2 separate regions of the Homo sapiens genome follow, and region 1 is linked to region 2. The links come from fine-mapping of genetic effects on gene expression. A gene starts in region 2. The other region holds a variant in brackets. All regions are shown on one strand. Distances are between the middles of the regions.

Region 1 (8,571 bases), 96 kb after region 2:
TGAGGTGCAGTTCAACCTTTGCTTCCTCCTAGAATCAAGCCCAGTCCTCAGCTACCTGTTAAACAAGGTGAAGACCTAGGTCAGAAGTTGAGAAGCCAGAATCATCTTGCTGATGGCCACTGCCCTGACCACTTCCTGTTATCAGGTCTAGACTCTTCCACCTGGACTCTCACTACACCCAGAGAGTGTTTCTTCAACCCTATCTCCCTGGATGATTTCATTTACTCCCACACCTCTTATGTGTACGACTATCCTGAAAAATACTTTACAGAGGTCTTTCCAACTGCCGGTTAGAATTTCCACTTGTGTATCTTTCTTTTTAAATTCAGCCTGTCCAAATCTGAACCCAGAGCATTCCTTTTCAAACCTTTTTTATATGTTTTCCAGTTCAAAATGACACCATCATCTCTTCAGTTAATTTACCGTAAATTCTTAGTTTTATCTTAGAATTTCTCTTCCCTAGGCAGTCATCAAAATCTTCATTTTTTTGTTTTTTGAGAGACAGGGTCTTGCTCTGTTGCCCAGGCTGAAATGCACTGGTGCCATCATAGCTCACTGCAGCCTCAAACTCCAGGGCTCAAGCGATTCTCCCACCTCAGCCTCCTGAGCAGCAGGAACTACGGGTGCACACTGCCAAGCTTGGCTAATATTTTTATCTTGCGTAGTGACAGGGTTTCATTGTGTTGCCCAGGCTGCACATTCTCTTAAATCTCATCACTAAAATGTCTCTAATAAGCCATCGTGAATATGTCTAAGTTCAGGATCTCCTCACTGTAGAGTGACTTGCTCCTGATCTTAAGTTATTCCTTTGACCTGTTTCTTGCCTTTCCAGTATTATTTCCCACTGGATTTACCCCTCTTAATACACAGAATTGGTCATGTTATTTCAAAAAGCATTGGTCACGCCTTACTTTATTAATTTATCAAATATTTAAAAAGTACCTACTATGTATTAGGCTCTATCCTAGGCATCGGTGATCCACAGTTCCCTACGGATCCAGTAATTAAAAGGAACAGTTGATTTCTTCAGAGAGTTTATAGTCAGACATTAGAAATGAAGACATCAGTAGGTAATCACAATACAATGTGACAATTTCTACAATAGAAACATAAGCTAGAAATGGACGTGAACACGAGCTTAGAATCATATCCAACTGTCCTTAGATAGTGAGGGTGCAGGTAGAAAAGGGGTGCAGCAGGACGCTGCTGGAGTGTTTCGTAAGAATTGACATATAAGATAGGATGTGAAAGGAATCGCCATAGGCTAGATGAAGGGGTAGCACAAGGGCTGAAGGCAGCACCCAAGTCTTTGAATGCAAGTCAGTTTTCCAGACTTATTTGCTGAAGTATCCACCCCCACCTTATCCTATAGCTAGTCAGAGTAAAAGCTCCACCTATAAAAATGTCACTTGCGGCCGGGCGCGGTGGCTCACGCCTGTAATCCCAGCACTTTGGGAGGCCGAGGCGGGCGGATCACGAGGTCAGGAGATCGAGACCATCCCGGCTAAAACGGTGAAACCCCGTCTCTACTAAAAATACAAAAAATTAGCCGGGCGTAGTGGCGGGCGCCTGTAGTCCCAGCTACTTGGGAGGCTGAGGCAGGAGAATGGCGTGAACCCGGGAGGCGGAGCTTGCAGTGAGCCGAGATCCCGCCACCGCACTCCAGCCTGGGCGACAGAGCGAGACTCCGTCTCAAAAAAAAAAAAAAATGTCACTTGCATTTGCAGTCTCACAAGGTTTTCTAGAGTCAGAGAACTCAAGGAGCAATCTGCTGGGAACTGCACATAAACCATGATGGGGGTAGTACTGCCTATTTGTAAACATCCTCTATCATCTTTGTGCTGGTGGAAAAGAGAAAAGCTGTTTTAGAAATGTTGTTGTGGTAACTCTTATTTTTAAAGCTTTTAACATAGAAATTTTCAGCATATGTAAAAGTAGTGTGAATTGTACAGTGAATCTCCAGCCAGTTTCAATAACCAGCAACACTATTCTATTGACAACCTTGTTATGGGCTGAACCGCATCATTCAAAAGAGAGACGTAGAAGTCCTAACTTCCAGGACCTCAGAACGTGACCTTACTTTAAAATATGGTCTTTGCACGTTCAATCAAATTAAGATGAAGTCATTGGGGTGAGCCCTAATCCAGCGTGACTGCTGTCCCCGTAAACTGGGGAAATTTGGACACAGGCATCCAGAAGGAAAGATGATGTGAAGACACCGGGCGAACACAGTGTGAAGACGGAGGCACAGATAGGACTGATGCAGCTGCAGGCCACGGAGATCTCCAAGTTGGCCATCGCTACAAGCTAGCAAAAGGCAAGGAAGAATTCTATGCAGAGTCTCAGAGGGAGCGGGGCCCTGCGAATATCTTGATTTTGACCTTCAGAACTGTGAGACAGTAAATCTCTACTGTTTTAAGCCACGAAGCTTGTGGTACTTCAGTATGGAGCCCTAGCAAACTAACACAAACCCTTTCATCTCGTCCACTAGGTTATGCTAGAGCACATCCCAGACAGCAAAATCATTTCATCTGTAAAAACATCAAAACCGCTCTTAGCACATCCATCAAAATTAACACCACTGCTTGCAGTTACTTTTGCCCCTAGAATACCTACACTAATAAGTCAAACTGCTGCAATGTAAAGGCAATTCAAATAATTCTTTTTGTGGCTAAGCCACCAACCTGGAACACAATTAGGGTTGTTTCATTCTGCTTTCAATATGTAGGGGGTACTTTCTCATTTTTGTTTAATTTTGTCTTATAATTTTATAAACCATTTTTATAGTTCTGAAGTCAAAATTTTGAGACCTCAAAAAGTCATAGATTCTACCCCTGTTCCATCCTTTTTCTTCCTTCACCTTAGAGATAACCATTTTTATTGATCTCCTTTTTTTTCTTTTGCTTTTATCTTTCTAAAAAAAATAATTGCACTGCTTAATGACTGGGATATGTTCTGAGATACGCGTTGTTGGCGATGTTGTGCAGTCATCAGAGTGTGTTACACAAATCTAGATGGTATAGGCTACTACACACCTAGGCTATACCCCTATACAGCATGTTACTTAGCTGAATACTGTAGGCTACTGTAACACAATTGTAAGTATTTGTGCATCTCAACATATTAAAACATAGAAAAGGGACAGGAAAAATGCAGTATTATCATCTATGGGAGCATCATCATATATGTAGGCTATCATTGACTGAAACATTATGTGCTCCATGACAGTGTAAGTAAATACACACACACTTTTCTTGGTATTCCCACCCACCTTTCTTAGATAACAGTACTAACTGTGCTGTTCTGCACTTATTCTCACATTCTGGAGATCACTCCATAGTAGAAGTTACAGAGGTCCTCCTCATTCCACTTTACAGCTGTGTGGACGTACCACAGTTTATCATCCTTGGAGTGCCTTAGCTTTAGTTCTAGGCCCCCAGTTCTTCTCACTCTGCATCTTTCCACAGGCAACTTCAATCATAGACTCATCCTCTAAGCAAGATATCTCCCATACTCGACTCCCCCTTACAGACGACCTACTCAAAAGAGCAGTTCAGATGCCTCAAAGTCAACACACCTAAAACCACACTCACGATTCTTCCCTCCGACCTGGTCAACCCCTTGTCTCTGTAAATGGCACCACCTCTGAATCAAAACCTTAAGAGTTATCCTTAATAATTCTCCCTCCCTCAGCCCCCTCATCTAATCAATTACCAAGACCTGTTTATTCTGCCATCTAAATCTGCCTCACATTCGTCTACTTTTCCCCATCTACTGCTACCATTCCATCATGAGCCTTGCCTCCAATGTCACCTGCCTCTCCTGATTTTCCTTACAGTACGCTTTTACCTGTCTTCCCTATGGGTTCATTTCTCTCTGCCTGGCTTCCTGAAATGCTGGAGTTCCTCAAGATTCAGTCTTAGGCTCTTTCTTACTCTTACTGTAATGTGAACACTCTCCCTAGGCCAACTCATCCTCTCCCATTATTTCAATCACCCTATATTGATCAGGTTCTCCCAAATTTACATTTCAAGCTCAGTCTACATTTTGAGGTACTGTACTCCGAAATCAACACTACTTGTCATCGCCACTGGGATAACTAGGTCAACCAAAAACAGCTCAATTAATCTAAAACCAAATTTACATCATCTCCAAATCTGATCTCCTTCTAGTGTTCCTATCTCACTGAATGACATCACCAACCGTCACAGAACAAACCAGAAACCAAGCAAGCATCCCTGACAACCCCATCTCCCTTTTGTTTGCTTTTATTTTCTTTGTTACCCCATCTCCTCTATCTTCCATGTCTAACAGTCCTGCTGGCTGTATCTCCTGGACATCCCTGGGACTGGTTCACTTCTTTCTGTCTCCAACACCACTAACCTAGTCCAAGTCACTCGTGCATTCATTATACAACTGGACGCATACCCTGGCCAGGGACTGTTTTAGGTTCTTGGAAAACAGGAGTGAATGAAACAGGCAACCCCTCCCACAGCAGCTTACAATGCAGAGGCAGAGACAGATCATGAAGAAACAGATCTATTACACAGCGCTAAGCACGAGGAGGGAAAATAAAGCACGGTGAGGAGATGGCGTGGGGGCTGCAGGGCTGCGTGTCAGATGATCTGTGCCTGTGTGAGCCGAAGCCTGTGCAGCACAAGGAAGTGAGCGAGCCACATGGACGCATGACCGCCAC[G/A]AAGAACAGTCCCAGACAGAAAAAGCAGGGCAGAGGCCCTGAGTGGGGGCCTGCTTGGCGCCCCCCATGACACACTGCAGGGCGGCCAAGGGTGATCAGAGGCCTCGAATGAAGGGCAGAGTGGAAGGAGCTGAGAGTGAAGAGGTAGCCAGGGCCAGACCACGTAGTGTATTTCTCCCAAAGGAGAGTTAAAAAGATAAACAAGTGTGGTTCCCATATAAAAAAATCTCACCTTTCTTCAGGGAGGAGAAAGCTCTCCCCAGCACAGGGGCTGTGGGGACCGAGGCTGCCTGCCCTGCAGCTCCTTGCTGGGCCCATGGCATAAGGGGCCATCACTGAGCCCTCTGGACCTGACAAGCCCTGCACTGTGGCCGTCAGGTTCTCCACATGGGCTGGCGGCTGCAGAAAGCAGCCTAGGCCTGCCCTGGGCTACTTACGGCTCCTCAGAACCTGTGCCTGGCTCTCAAGCACCAACCAAACCCTGTGACAGGGCCCGTGGCTCTCTCTCGGGTGCTCCACCTTCTCCTCGCTGGCTTTGCTTCTCTGGACCTTCATGAACACCTTTCTTTAGGCCTGAGCAATTCTTCAGTCCTTTGATCCCAGGCCCTTCCACAGGGAAGCCTTTGCTGACGCCACCTGCCTGCTCTGCACTCTCACAGCACCGAGTGTCTTTCCCACGTGGTCCTCACTGGAATGTGTCCTTCTGTGCCTTGTGTGCAATGAGTGTGTTCACCTTGTCCCCCACTAGATCGTGCACTCCAGAAGCAGGAGACCTGTGTCCCTTTCTGCCCAATGCTATACAAAGCTGTGGGCGAGGGTTCAACCTTGATCCCCCAGAGCCAGAGCCCCCCCAGTTCAACCACTCTCAGTCCCCCACTGCCACGATGGCCCCTCCCCGTTTCTCTACTCTGATTACTTCTCGGGCTCTGTCAGATTCCTCCTGCTTAAGCACCTCGCAAATGCTGTTTCCTGAAATTCGGGCCTCCACTTGGCCCCCTCACCTGGCCAGCTCCAAGCTTCTAATGCCCATCATGCTAATGGGCTCCCTGACCTCCCTTGAGTCTCGGCCCTGTCACTTACACACCTGCCCACCAGGGTTCCCCACCTGACGACTTCACTCACATCTCAAGTGAAATCCATCCCACACCCAACTGCTCCTGTACCCTGATCACGTGGGCGCCGCCTCCTCCCTCACGAACTCACGGCAAGTGCCTTCATCCAGGCCCTTCCACCTCCTGCCTCCCTCCATGACTGCAATCGCTCTGCAAGGCTTCCCGCCTTTTTTTTTTTTTTTAAGACAGAGTCTCACTCTGTCGCCAAGGCTGGAGTGAAGTGGCGCAATCTCGGCTCACTGCAACCTCCGCCTCCCGGGTTCAAGTGTTTCTCCTGTCTCAGCCTCCGGAGTAGCTGGGATTACAGGCCTGCCCCACCACGCTTGGCTAATTTTTGTATTTTTAGTAGAGGCAGGGTTTTGCCATGTTGCCCAGGCTGGTCTCAAACTCCTGACCTCAGGTGATCCGCCCGCCTCGGCCTCTGAAAGTGCTAGGATGACAGGCGTGAGCCACCGTGCCCAGCGTTCTGCCTCACTTTCAAACACGATGCTTCCAAAGTGACCATTCTTGTGAATTCAAATCACATAAGAACGTCACAAATATATTCTCTTTGTGAAACATTAAAATACTACATGTAAGTAATGCCCCCTTCCATGGACCCATTCTCAATCCCATTCCAAGTGTAACTAATGTCATCAGCTAAGGTGTGTCCTCCTAACCTTTCTCTCTGCTTATGTGCACATTACACATACACATAATTTTCATTAGACATAAATGGTGGCGTCCTAACAATGCTCTGTAACTTTTTGGGAGCTCTGTCCACGTCCCTGGACTCTTGTTTTCAGGGTGGTGATGCTCACAGGTCCCTTAGCTGTTCTTACACGGATGGAGACTCAGCTGTTTCTGATTCACACCAACTTTTCTAAGATACCAAGGACCATATGATTCCTGCCCAAATCCTTCCATTATTTCCAGTGCTCCATGGGACAGTTTCCACCTCTTAGAACCGTGCCCAAGCACTTACCACGCGGCCCTTCCCTAGCTTTCTAGGCTATTTCCTTCCTCACCTCCTCCTTTCCCAAATACACCCTGAGCTTCAGCCAGAGTGATTATTTGAAATTCCTTAAATAGACTATGTTTGCTGAATGAATACATGAAAATACAGCCCTATTCTAAAACAACAGGAAAGAGTAAGAAAGAGATTCTGAGAGATTCATGGGGAAGTGAATCCTGCCTAAGAGCCTGGGCTTCCGCTTCCCCATCACTTCTTGAGGCCTGAGAATTCTCAAGGGAGTTTCCCAACCAACGTTCCTACCTCCTCTCATTAACCAGACCATTGTCTGCGGCCATTCCGCACCTCGGGCCACCCACTTACCTAGAGAGGAGACGCCAGAACCGTCTTTCTCCACCTCCCAGGGATCTTCTCCTTGCTGCAACAGGGAGATCACTTTTGGTTTGGTAAATGGGAGCCCTGCACATAAACAAAAAACCACAACCAAACAAATCAGACTTGGTTTTGTATTGATACAGTTATCCCAAATTTAAATACAGAACTCACAGGATGGTACAAAGAGCTTCTGTGTAGGGCTTCAGTTGTGCCCCTGGGAGGTAAGGGGGTAAGGCGGTAGGGTGAGGAAAAGACAAGTGACTTGTAGGACATGACTCTGGGACAATTAATTATAGGTTAGGAAAATATGATCAACATGCAGTATTGGTAATAGGATACCACTAGCTTTCTATAGAAGAGGAAATGTTAAGATATACAGACTGATTAGAATTTCTAAGTAGGTTATCTATGAAAAGGATTATGTACCAGGTAGCTTGTCTAAAACGAGAAAACACTATCTGACTCCGCTTTTTTTTTCTGAGGAGGAGTCTCGCTCTATTGCCAGGCTGGAGTGCAGTGGCGCAATCTTGGCTCACTGCAACCTCCGTCTCCCGGGTTCAAGTGATTTTCCTGCCTCAGTCTCCCAAGTAGCGGGGACTACAGGAACATGCCACCACGCCTAAGTTTTGTATTTTCAGTAGAGACAGGGTTTCACCATGTTGGCCAGGATGGTCTTGATCTTCTGACCTTGTGATCTGCCCGCCTCGGCCTCCCAAAGTGCTGGGATTACAGGTGTGAGCCACCGCGCCCGGCCTATGTGACTCCCTTTTAAGGATGGCAGTGATCAGCAAACTACGGGTCATGGGCCAAATTCAGACCACTGCCTGTTTATGTATGGCCCTGTGCAAAGAATGGTGGGAAAAAAAAAGAGAAATATGTTACGGAGACCATTACGCAGCCCACAAAGCCTAAAGTCTTTACTACGTGGCTTTTTTTTTTTTGAGACAGAGTCTCGCTTTGTCGCCCAGGCTGGAGTGCAGTGGCGGGAACTTGGCTCACTGCAAGCTCCTCGCCATTCTCCTGCCTCAGCCTTCAAAGTAGCGGGGACTACAGGCGCCCGGCATCACACCCAGCTAATTTTTTTTGTGTTTTTTAGTAGAGACAGGCTTTCACCACGTTAGCCAGAATGGTCTCTATCTCTTGACCTCATGATCTGCCCGCCTTGGCCTCCCAAAGTGCTGGGATTACAGGTGTGAGCCACCATGCCCAGCCTACATGGCTTTTTATAGTAAAAGTTTGCTAATCCCTGGAAAAGACAAGTGGGAAAGGCAGGTGGTAGGCCTAGAGGCTGAATGAAGCTCCCTGTTGGGAGACAAGCAAACTACAGAATCGTTGGGAAACGATGCCTGAATCATGGACAAACTTGGAGTGTGTGATTACATAGAGAGAGAGGAATGATTATCAATACCACCTCTTCCATTCCCAGACACAGGGCA
Region 2 (8,571 bases):
AAACGCTGACCACCAAACACATCTGGTACAAATATCAAAGCAGGCACTGGCCTGGTGGTTAACTGGACTCAGTATCATGTTTACGTAGTTAACTATGAGCACAAATGAACTGTTCATCACTCATATCACTTCCTTTCTATATATACAACGTATAATTATCCTATGAATAACCAGTACTATGACGTTAAGCCTTAGGGTTTTTTGTATTTATTAATAGTGGGGTACAGATGGTTTTTTTTAGTGTACTGTACATTAATTATTAATTATCTCTGGTCTCTGAAATCCTGTCATAAACCTTCCCCCTTCCCCTTATATAACAATGCGTATGAAGCATGATTTGTCTGCACTGACTACAAATAAGCTGTTTGGCAGAACAAGTCTGTTAACGTGGAGAAGGAAAGAAATTACATACTGTTTTTTAAAGTAACCCCAGCTGGCTAATTTAGAAAGCAATCTGGTAAACAGTCCCAATGGAACATCTGCACAAAACGAGAAAACAGAACCAACAAAACAAACGAAAAAGGGAAATTAATGAAAGAGTGAAAACTTACCTAGCCTTTCTTTAATCATTTAGAACTTTAAGATTCCTTTAATTCTATATAAATATATTACCTCCAAATTGTACACTGGTAAGAATACAATAAAACAGCACACATGCTGTTGCAAGTTTTTATTGAGGCCATTTCCCAAATTACTAGCTACTACCTATGCAAAAGAATAGTTCTTAAATAAAGCCAGCTTCTAAAAATCCCAAACATATCCCTTGGCCTCATCTACAAATATAACCTGTACGACATGGTATAAGTGACTAATAATACATGCTGCTTTTCTCTGTTGGAATAACTCCTCCCCTATAAAACCCTACCTTATTTCTGAAACAATGAGCACTACAACATACCCATCTCCCTCCTACATACAAGTTAAAGGTACTCATTGGGCATTCTATCACTATTACTTAACTTTTTGTGTGTCATCTCCCTAATCACGTTACTGGCAGTTGGGACTCACCATGTTATTTAATACATTTCACATTCACTTACTGATCAACTGTCTCCTACCACTCCCAGGCAGACAGACATACATAAGGATAAGAACTTTGTTTTATTTACAGCTGTAGCCTCAGCGCCTATCTAAAATAAGTACTCAAATATTTTCTAAACGAATATTTGTTGACTGAATTATAAAACAATTTGACAGATGAAAGCTATATAAGCAAATGACAAATCATTTAAAACTATTAGAGCTAAAATGCTAGTAGTTCAAGAGTTAATTTACCAATCAGATTCTTTAAACTGGTGATGTGGTTTACAATGCCTGTTCTCTTGTGTGCTACTATGAGATCTCCTCTTCCGCTTGTGACTTCCACGATAGCTTTCATGTCCCCAGCTTTCTCTGCTATCCCAATCAGGACAGTGAGTTCTTTTGGAATGCCGCATCTGTTGATAGAAATGAAAAGGGAATTGTGGAGGTTACAGATGTGTGATAGGTAAATTATTATATATTAATATTATTTAAGTTATCAAAACCCAACACACAGGGTCTTACAGGCTCCAAAATCTTTTTAGGTGGTAATGCTTCCCAAGGCACTGGTATGTCAGATGACTGCTAAGAGGCATAGAGATCTAGTATTAAATTGTGGGTAATACTGATACCTTAAGACATTTTTTTTTTTTGAATTCTGATTACAGCCAGGACAAATTCTCAGCTTGGTGCTTGTCTTCAACTAACACTTGCTAACTGCCTTTTTAAAAATTAAAAAAAAGCCGGGGGGGGCAAATAAAAAGGTTCAGGCCTAGTGTTTCCAGCAGACAAGAGTATTTAGCTAAAAATTAGTAACGTTTTTATTTATCTTATTTTGTTACTTTCTACTTATTAGTGATTTTCCAATTAAGTTATTGACATATTTTCTTTTAAAAATGTTAACATTAAAATGTGAGCTGATTTAAGGAGAAATAATATCAGTGTCATGCAGCTTTGGCAAAGTACTGTAATACAAATAACTGAAGTGCAAGACAAAAACACTTAGGGATACTAAATATGGGAGGTGACTTTGTTTTAATGGTAAAGAGCTATTCAATGATGAAGCTTCTTTTTCTCAAATTCTCCATAGTTCTTTTCTCTAAATCTCAGAATGACTCTAAGCTTTGAGAATATTAGTTCTGTGTGGATAGAACACAATATTCAACAGAGAAACTGAAGAGATATAAAAAGGTGATTTTAGGCCGGGTACGGTGGCTCATGCCTGTAATCCCAGAATTTTGGGAGGCCAAGCCCAGGAGTCTGAGACCAGCCTGCGCTACACATAGTGAAACTGTCTCTACAAAAAAAATTTTTTTAAATGTTTATGTGATTTTATGAACTCATTTTCTCTATCCAACAAGTTCATTTTCTTATCCAGCAGTTATTCTTAACCTTAAAATCTATTTGTAGTAAATCTGGAGTAACTCTGAAAAAGAACTCAACCTACAAGGATGCACACTGAAGCATGGTCACAGTGAAAGCAAACGATAACGGTGACAGCTGACTTTATTTACAAACTCCAGTGCATAACCTGGGTTCCTTCCAGGCTCAGCATCTGCGCTCAAACAATATAACCCCTATCTGTCTCTCCCCATCTTAATTATTTTCCAAAACAGTTAAGTTTTAACAGTCAGGTCCAAATTCTCCTAAACAGGGTGAGTTTAAATGGTAAAAAGAGAAGAATTTCACAATTCAGCAAGGAGCTGAAAAAAGCTAAAATGGAGTAAAACCCACTCAGTTAACCTCATTCAGCTTGCCCAAATGACTAATAAGCAAACAAATGCAAGCAGAAATTTAAATGATTTTAAATGGATTAAAGGTTTTGGAGTGAGGCAGCTTCAATTCTTCTGGGAGGTATTCCACAAGAAAGTATGTGTCACGCCATCAGAGTCTGATTGCCACCAGATAGTCAGATATTTTAATTCACTCTCTTGCTGATTCTAATTCTATACCCATCAAGCATCCTTCTAAGGTGGCTCTCAGCTCACTTTACAGAGGAAGAGAAGGCACTGATCAGGCCAAACAGCAATTCTAAAACTCTTGTTAGCGTCTCAATGGAAGTGAGCATTCCGGTTTGATACAAATGGAGTCACTTCCATATGGGAACGTGACATGAATAACAGCACACATTTACTTGAGGCAAAAGGCCAAAACACAAACTTTCTTCATTAGAGCTATCAAGAAAAATTTATGGCTGGACGCAGTGGCGCCTCATCCCTTGAGCCCAGGAATTCGAGACTGGCCTGGGCAACACGGCGAAACCCTGCCTTTACAAAAAATACAAAAAATTAGCCGCACATGGTGACTCGAGCCTGTAGTCCCACCTACTGGGACAATCACTGGAGCCCAAGGAAGTCAAGGCTGCAGTGAGCCATGATCACGCCATTGCATACCAGTATGGGCGACAGTGAGACCCTGTCTCAAAAAAAAAAAAAAAAAAAAAAAGAAAATGTGTATTTCAAGTGCAGTTCTTCTGAAGCGTTCCGTCAAATACCAAAGTTGTATTTTAACCACATCAGGAACTCAGCTTGGTTAAGCATTTTTAAATCATAGCAAGCAAAATCACATCTGATGACCGAGCGTTATTATTATGACCCTCCATTACTATGAAGTTTTTTTCAAGACTTATGTATCTTCTTCAGTTTTGTTTTTTCCTCTTCTACTGTAAGTCTGCTTACAACCAGCTAACCTCCAGCAAAACAGAACTCTCAAATTATCAGTTAATATGCAAACATTAAAATAAGAACGAGCTCCGTTGTGAGAGTCCAAAATTCTTCTCAAGTTCACTACTTCAAATGTAATTCAGCTGTTAGTCCCAGCCTCTGACCTCCCCCACTCACCCTGCAATGTTCAAAAATATTTTATCTGGAGGCACAAAGATCACCCGACCCACGTTCTACGTGGTAAGGTTCCTTCGCATACATAAAAAAGAAAAGCTATCTAGAATCATGACACTGCCTCTAATAAAGCATCCCACATGCTAGAGTAGGTATCTTTCAAAAAATAATGACACAATGGATCTCATATGTAGATCCATCGCCACTGCCCTTAAGATCCTGTAGTTCTTGACAACTTTACGCTACGTACATGGCTTAAAAACATCGAAACAGGTTATAAGTTTAGGATTGGATGGCTCCAAGAGGACTGCATTTAATGGGTTACAAGCCTGTAGGGGTGTGTAAAAAGCACAATCGCACAGGACAGCTATGAGGCAAGACAAAGTGGCTGGCGAGTTCAGTTTGCGGGGCGGTTTCCTAAGGATCGGATAAGCCTATCTGGACTATTTAGGCAACCAGGGATAATAAGATGCAAAACCACCAGAAACGCAGGTTCGCTGCAACAATGTTGTGTTCAGCATAGCACAGAGGACTAGCCTCCGCAAATTTCCACCTCTCACAAGCAGCTACTGCCCTCAACCACCTGGATTTGCACGGACGCCCGGTCCCCACCTCCCGGCTCCTGGGCACCCGGCCAGTGCCTTTGGCGCACTCAAGACAGGGGCAAATGCTTGACTCTGGAAAACCCCCGAAACGCTACAAACGGCCCAGGCCAGGAATCCAGGGGAAGACTTGATCTCCGACAACACGAATGCCAGAGACGGCTCTCGAAGGGTCTCCCGACAGGTCCTAGCGCCCGCCGGCTGGAAGAGGTCCCGACAGGGTTAACCAACAGCCGCGCTCGCCAGGCAGCAGGGGACCGCGAGCCCACGGCCTCCGGAGCCGCGACGCGAGCGGCCAGGGCCCTCAGAGAAGGGTCAGCGGCAGAACCGCGACGCCCGAGCAACTTTCGGTGCTGCCGGCGTGCACCAGCCGAGCAGCGCCTCGCAGAACTCCCAACTCAGCTCCAGAAGCCCAGGCCCCTAACGCGGTCGTTTCTCCGACACCTGGCTCGGAGACCTAAAGACCGACAGCCGCCTGTCCCAGCACACACCATCTGCAACCCTACCTCCGCAAAAGCAAATGGCCCTTCGGCCGAGAAATGTCGCCAAACTGCCGTCTTCCCTCCTCGGCCGCTGCGACAAACACCCCACAAAATGGCGGCAGCGCCGTCGCCCTAGAATCCCCCGAGTCGCCTCTAGCACCACCTACGCCGCGCGAACGCGCCTGCGTGACAGAACCTTGCGCGCTCCCGCCGCTCCACCTAAGGGCGGGGCTCCACGTGACGTAAGAGCGGGGCTCGAGCCTCCACACTGCGGCTGCGCGGCCCAAGCATTTCCACCCCCCCCCCCCCGCCCACCCGGTCCCGGGGCCTCTAGGCCGGGAGGGTGTTTACGTTCTCTACGGGCTCGGGTGGAACCGGGAAGGAACGCCCGTGTCCCGCCCTCAGTGTGTACCGCGTGTCTGCCCCCTCCCCCGGGACCTCAACTCCCGCAGCCGGCACCCGACAACGGCCCCAAAACCGCCTAGGGCGGGCCTTGGCTGGTCCCTGGGCTGTTCCCTGGACTGGGTGCTTGTCCTGCCCACTTGGCGCTTCCAGTCTAAGGTGGATTCGGACAAAGAGGCTGTCTCAGAAAACAAGCTCAAGGGGTGCTAATCTTTTCAAGGCACGTGCTCCTATTCAGAACAAAACAAAAACCCGGAGGTTTCAATGGAGACTCCTGACAAGGTTTTCCTGTTAGGATCCCTACCTCCTGAGCAGTTAAGGTCGCTGGAAGTTTCCCTAACGAAGTTTTCCCCATTTTTTTTTGTCCCTGCGGGCTGATTTTATTCAAGGCTGAAAAATGTCTCTGAGCTAGTGATAGTCCGTTATGGGGCTTGCTTACCTCAAATAAGGTATTCTGCAGTTCTGAGGACCCTCAGGCAGTTCCCCCGTGTAAGTATGTAACATGAGAAATATTAGGGTCAAAGTCGGAGCCCTGTGGGGAACACTCAAGGGCCAGAGGGAAAGGGGCCTGAGAAGGAATGATCAGCAGAGGAGGAGAACCAAGAATAGGGTGTCAAAGCAAGGAAGGGCGTAAGTGAGGGAAAGGGTTTAGGTGAGACTGAAGATCGTGGGGGGGGACGGCGGGCGGGGTGGGGGTTGGCTTCTGTATTCTGACGGGGATTCGCTGGATAAAAGGGAAAGCTAGAAATCAAATTTGGGAGGGTAGGGTTGAACTCTTGCGGGTATTAGCCCAGTAGCATGTGGGAGACCTGTTATCCTGTTAGGTGAAAGGAGGGAACGGAAATACCTTTAGTGATCTAACATGATAGAAACTTGTGCCATCTGGTTTGGGTAAGTAGGGTAAATTTAGATAAATCTCGGAGATTGTACAGCATTTCAAAAAGTAAGTTGAATTTTCATGGAGATTGCACTCCAAGAAGCGAAGTTGAAAAGAAACTTGGAAAACTGGAAGGGTAAACTCTTTATGCTACAGAATGAAACAAATGATATTATTTTCATCTAGAATAGCCACCATTTTTGCATCTACAAATTTAAATCTTACTCATCCTTGAAAGGCCATTTCTTTAAGATGCTGTCTCTGACATGAGTTCCCACCCATTTCCCGGCTCCTGACTACTCCAGTTAGATGTGAAGTCCTCAAATAGTGGAGTATTTGGAGCCACCTGGTATGCTAACAGATTTTGCCCAAAGAGTGAAATGTATTGGTTCTACAATTGATTACACATCCCGTCTCAAGGGAATCTATTAGATAGAATGTTGAGCTGACTGGTCTGGGCGATAATACAAGGTAGAGTGGGGCTCAAATTGCAGCATATGAGAATGTAAATTCAAGCTGGCACCAAAGAATGTTCTCCTGTTTCATGGAGTAGGAGAGATCCTGCCTCCTGGGGTTATAAGAAAGTGTGGTCAGGACAGCCCACAATTCTGCTCAAAAAAGCAACACTATGTTAAAAAGCAGCCACTTGAAATGCCACCTACAGAGGCCTTTATATTATAGACGTCACACACACTGTTACCCAATAGTAGAGTCTGCTTTGTAATTACATTCATCTCGCTTTAGTGTTTTAATTTGTATGCCACCAAAAGGTCTAATGTTTAAAAGTGTGTAGTGATCAGAAGGAAGCTGAGAATGACTAGCACCTCTATGCTATGTGATGCAGCACTATGGTGCCCCTAGTCACTCTCTGTGGCTTTGTGCTGAGTTTGGAGACAAGGACCTGATTTATATTGTCTTTGGTATCTCAGGCCTAGAACCCAGTAAATATTTGTAGGTTGTTTACATAAGCTGCTTTGGGCCATTTTGCTCAGTTGGTTTAAGGTCAAAGTGAGTAAGTTAAAGGTAGACATTTCATCCCAGCATCACTGCACCAGTTAGCTTACCACCCTTTCGTGGCAGCCTCAACCCTTCCTATTAAGTCAGTTACCTGGCAAGACTTAATGAAAAGGTTTATCTAAATTTCTGAGAATCTACTACCAATACCAGAAACACTGCCTAATCCAGTGGTTTCATCTCTACACAAGAACAGTATGTCCAAAAAAACCTTTGAGTTAACTGATGTGTCCAAGCAGCTAGTCAAAGGCTGGGCACAGTGGCTCACGCCTGTAATCTCAGGTTGCAGGCAGAGGTGGGTGGATCACTTGAGCCTGGGATTTCAAGACTAGCCTGGCCAACATGGTGAAATCCCATCTCTACAAAAAATACAGAAAAAAAATTGGCTGGACATGGTGGTGCATGGCTGTGGTCCCAGCTACTCGGGAGGCTGAGGTGGGAGGATGGTTTGAGCCCAGGAGGCAGAGGTTGCAGTGAGCCAAGATCGTGCAACTGCACTCCAGCCTGGGTGACAGAGCCAAACCCTGTCTCAAAAGCAAAAACAAAAAGAACTAGTTTAAGAATTTTTTTGGCTGGGCACGGTGGCTCACGCCTGTAATCCCAGCACTTTGGGAGACCGAGGCAGGCGGATCATGAGGTCAGGAGTTCGAGACCAGCCTGGCCAATATGGTGAAACCCCGTCTCTACTAAAAATACAAAAATTAGCTGGGCATGGTGGCGGGTGCCTGTACCCCCAGCTACTTAGGAGGCTGAGGCAGAAGAATCGCTTGAACCCAGGAGGCGGGGCTGCAGTGAGCTGAGATCGTGCCGCTGCACTCCAGCCTGGGTAACAGTAAGACTCTGTCTCAAAAAAAAAAAAAAAAGAAATTTTTAGCTTTGAAGAGCAACCAAAGGAATATTCTTATCACATATTCTAGGATATGTATACGACATGCTTAACTTCAGACATCAAAAACACTCATATATGAGAGCCAGGTTTTAGAGTAAAAGTCTAAATTATTGTGTAAATTAAACAAAAGCTTATTACCGTATAGAGTAACCTTTACAAAGGTATAAACCTTTGCAGTTATAGCCTCTGTTATTAGCTGCTGGTTACTGATACTTACTAATTAGACTTGCTTTTAGCTATCAAATGCTCATTCTATGCTAACCACTTCATATACATGATCTCATTTAATCATCTGAATCCTATCAAGTGATCATTGGTTATCTGCCCTAGATCAGTTATCAAGTCCCAGAATCAGGATTCAGACCCAGATCTTGCTTGCTCCAAAGCTCTTGCATTTAATCCTTTCTACTGACTGCTTCAACTTACACAACAAAGTACGTGGCAACTT

Evidence for each region.
Region 1: its variant is fine-mapped to the expression of CLK4 in whole blood (INTERVAL, PIP 0.98).

The regions. Positions count from the first base shown.
Region 1 is chr5:178,718,253-178,726,823 of GRCh38, forward strand. It overlaps ZNF354A (zinc finger protein 354A), which reads right to left. Exons shown (of 5, transcript NM_005649.3): 4 at 7,124-7,219. Among named protein-coding and RNA genes, the nearest start is that of ZNF354A, 8.1 kb to the right of the region's middle. RefSeq lists an enhancer at 5,091-5,591 and a silencer at 5,807-6,007. The variant G/A (reference allele first, on the strand shown) is at 4,697.
Region 2 is chr5:178,621,981-178,630,551 of GRCh38, forward strand. It overlaps CLK4 (CDC like kinase 4), which reads right to left and starts at 5,070. Exons shown (of 13, transcript NM_020666.3): 1 at 4,966-5,070; 2 at 1,276-1,436. The coding sequence starts at 1,436. RefSeq lists enhancers at 4,016-4,696, 4,429-5,038, 8,106-8,571 and a silencer at 8,568-8,571.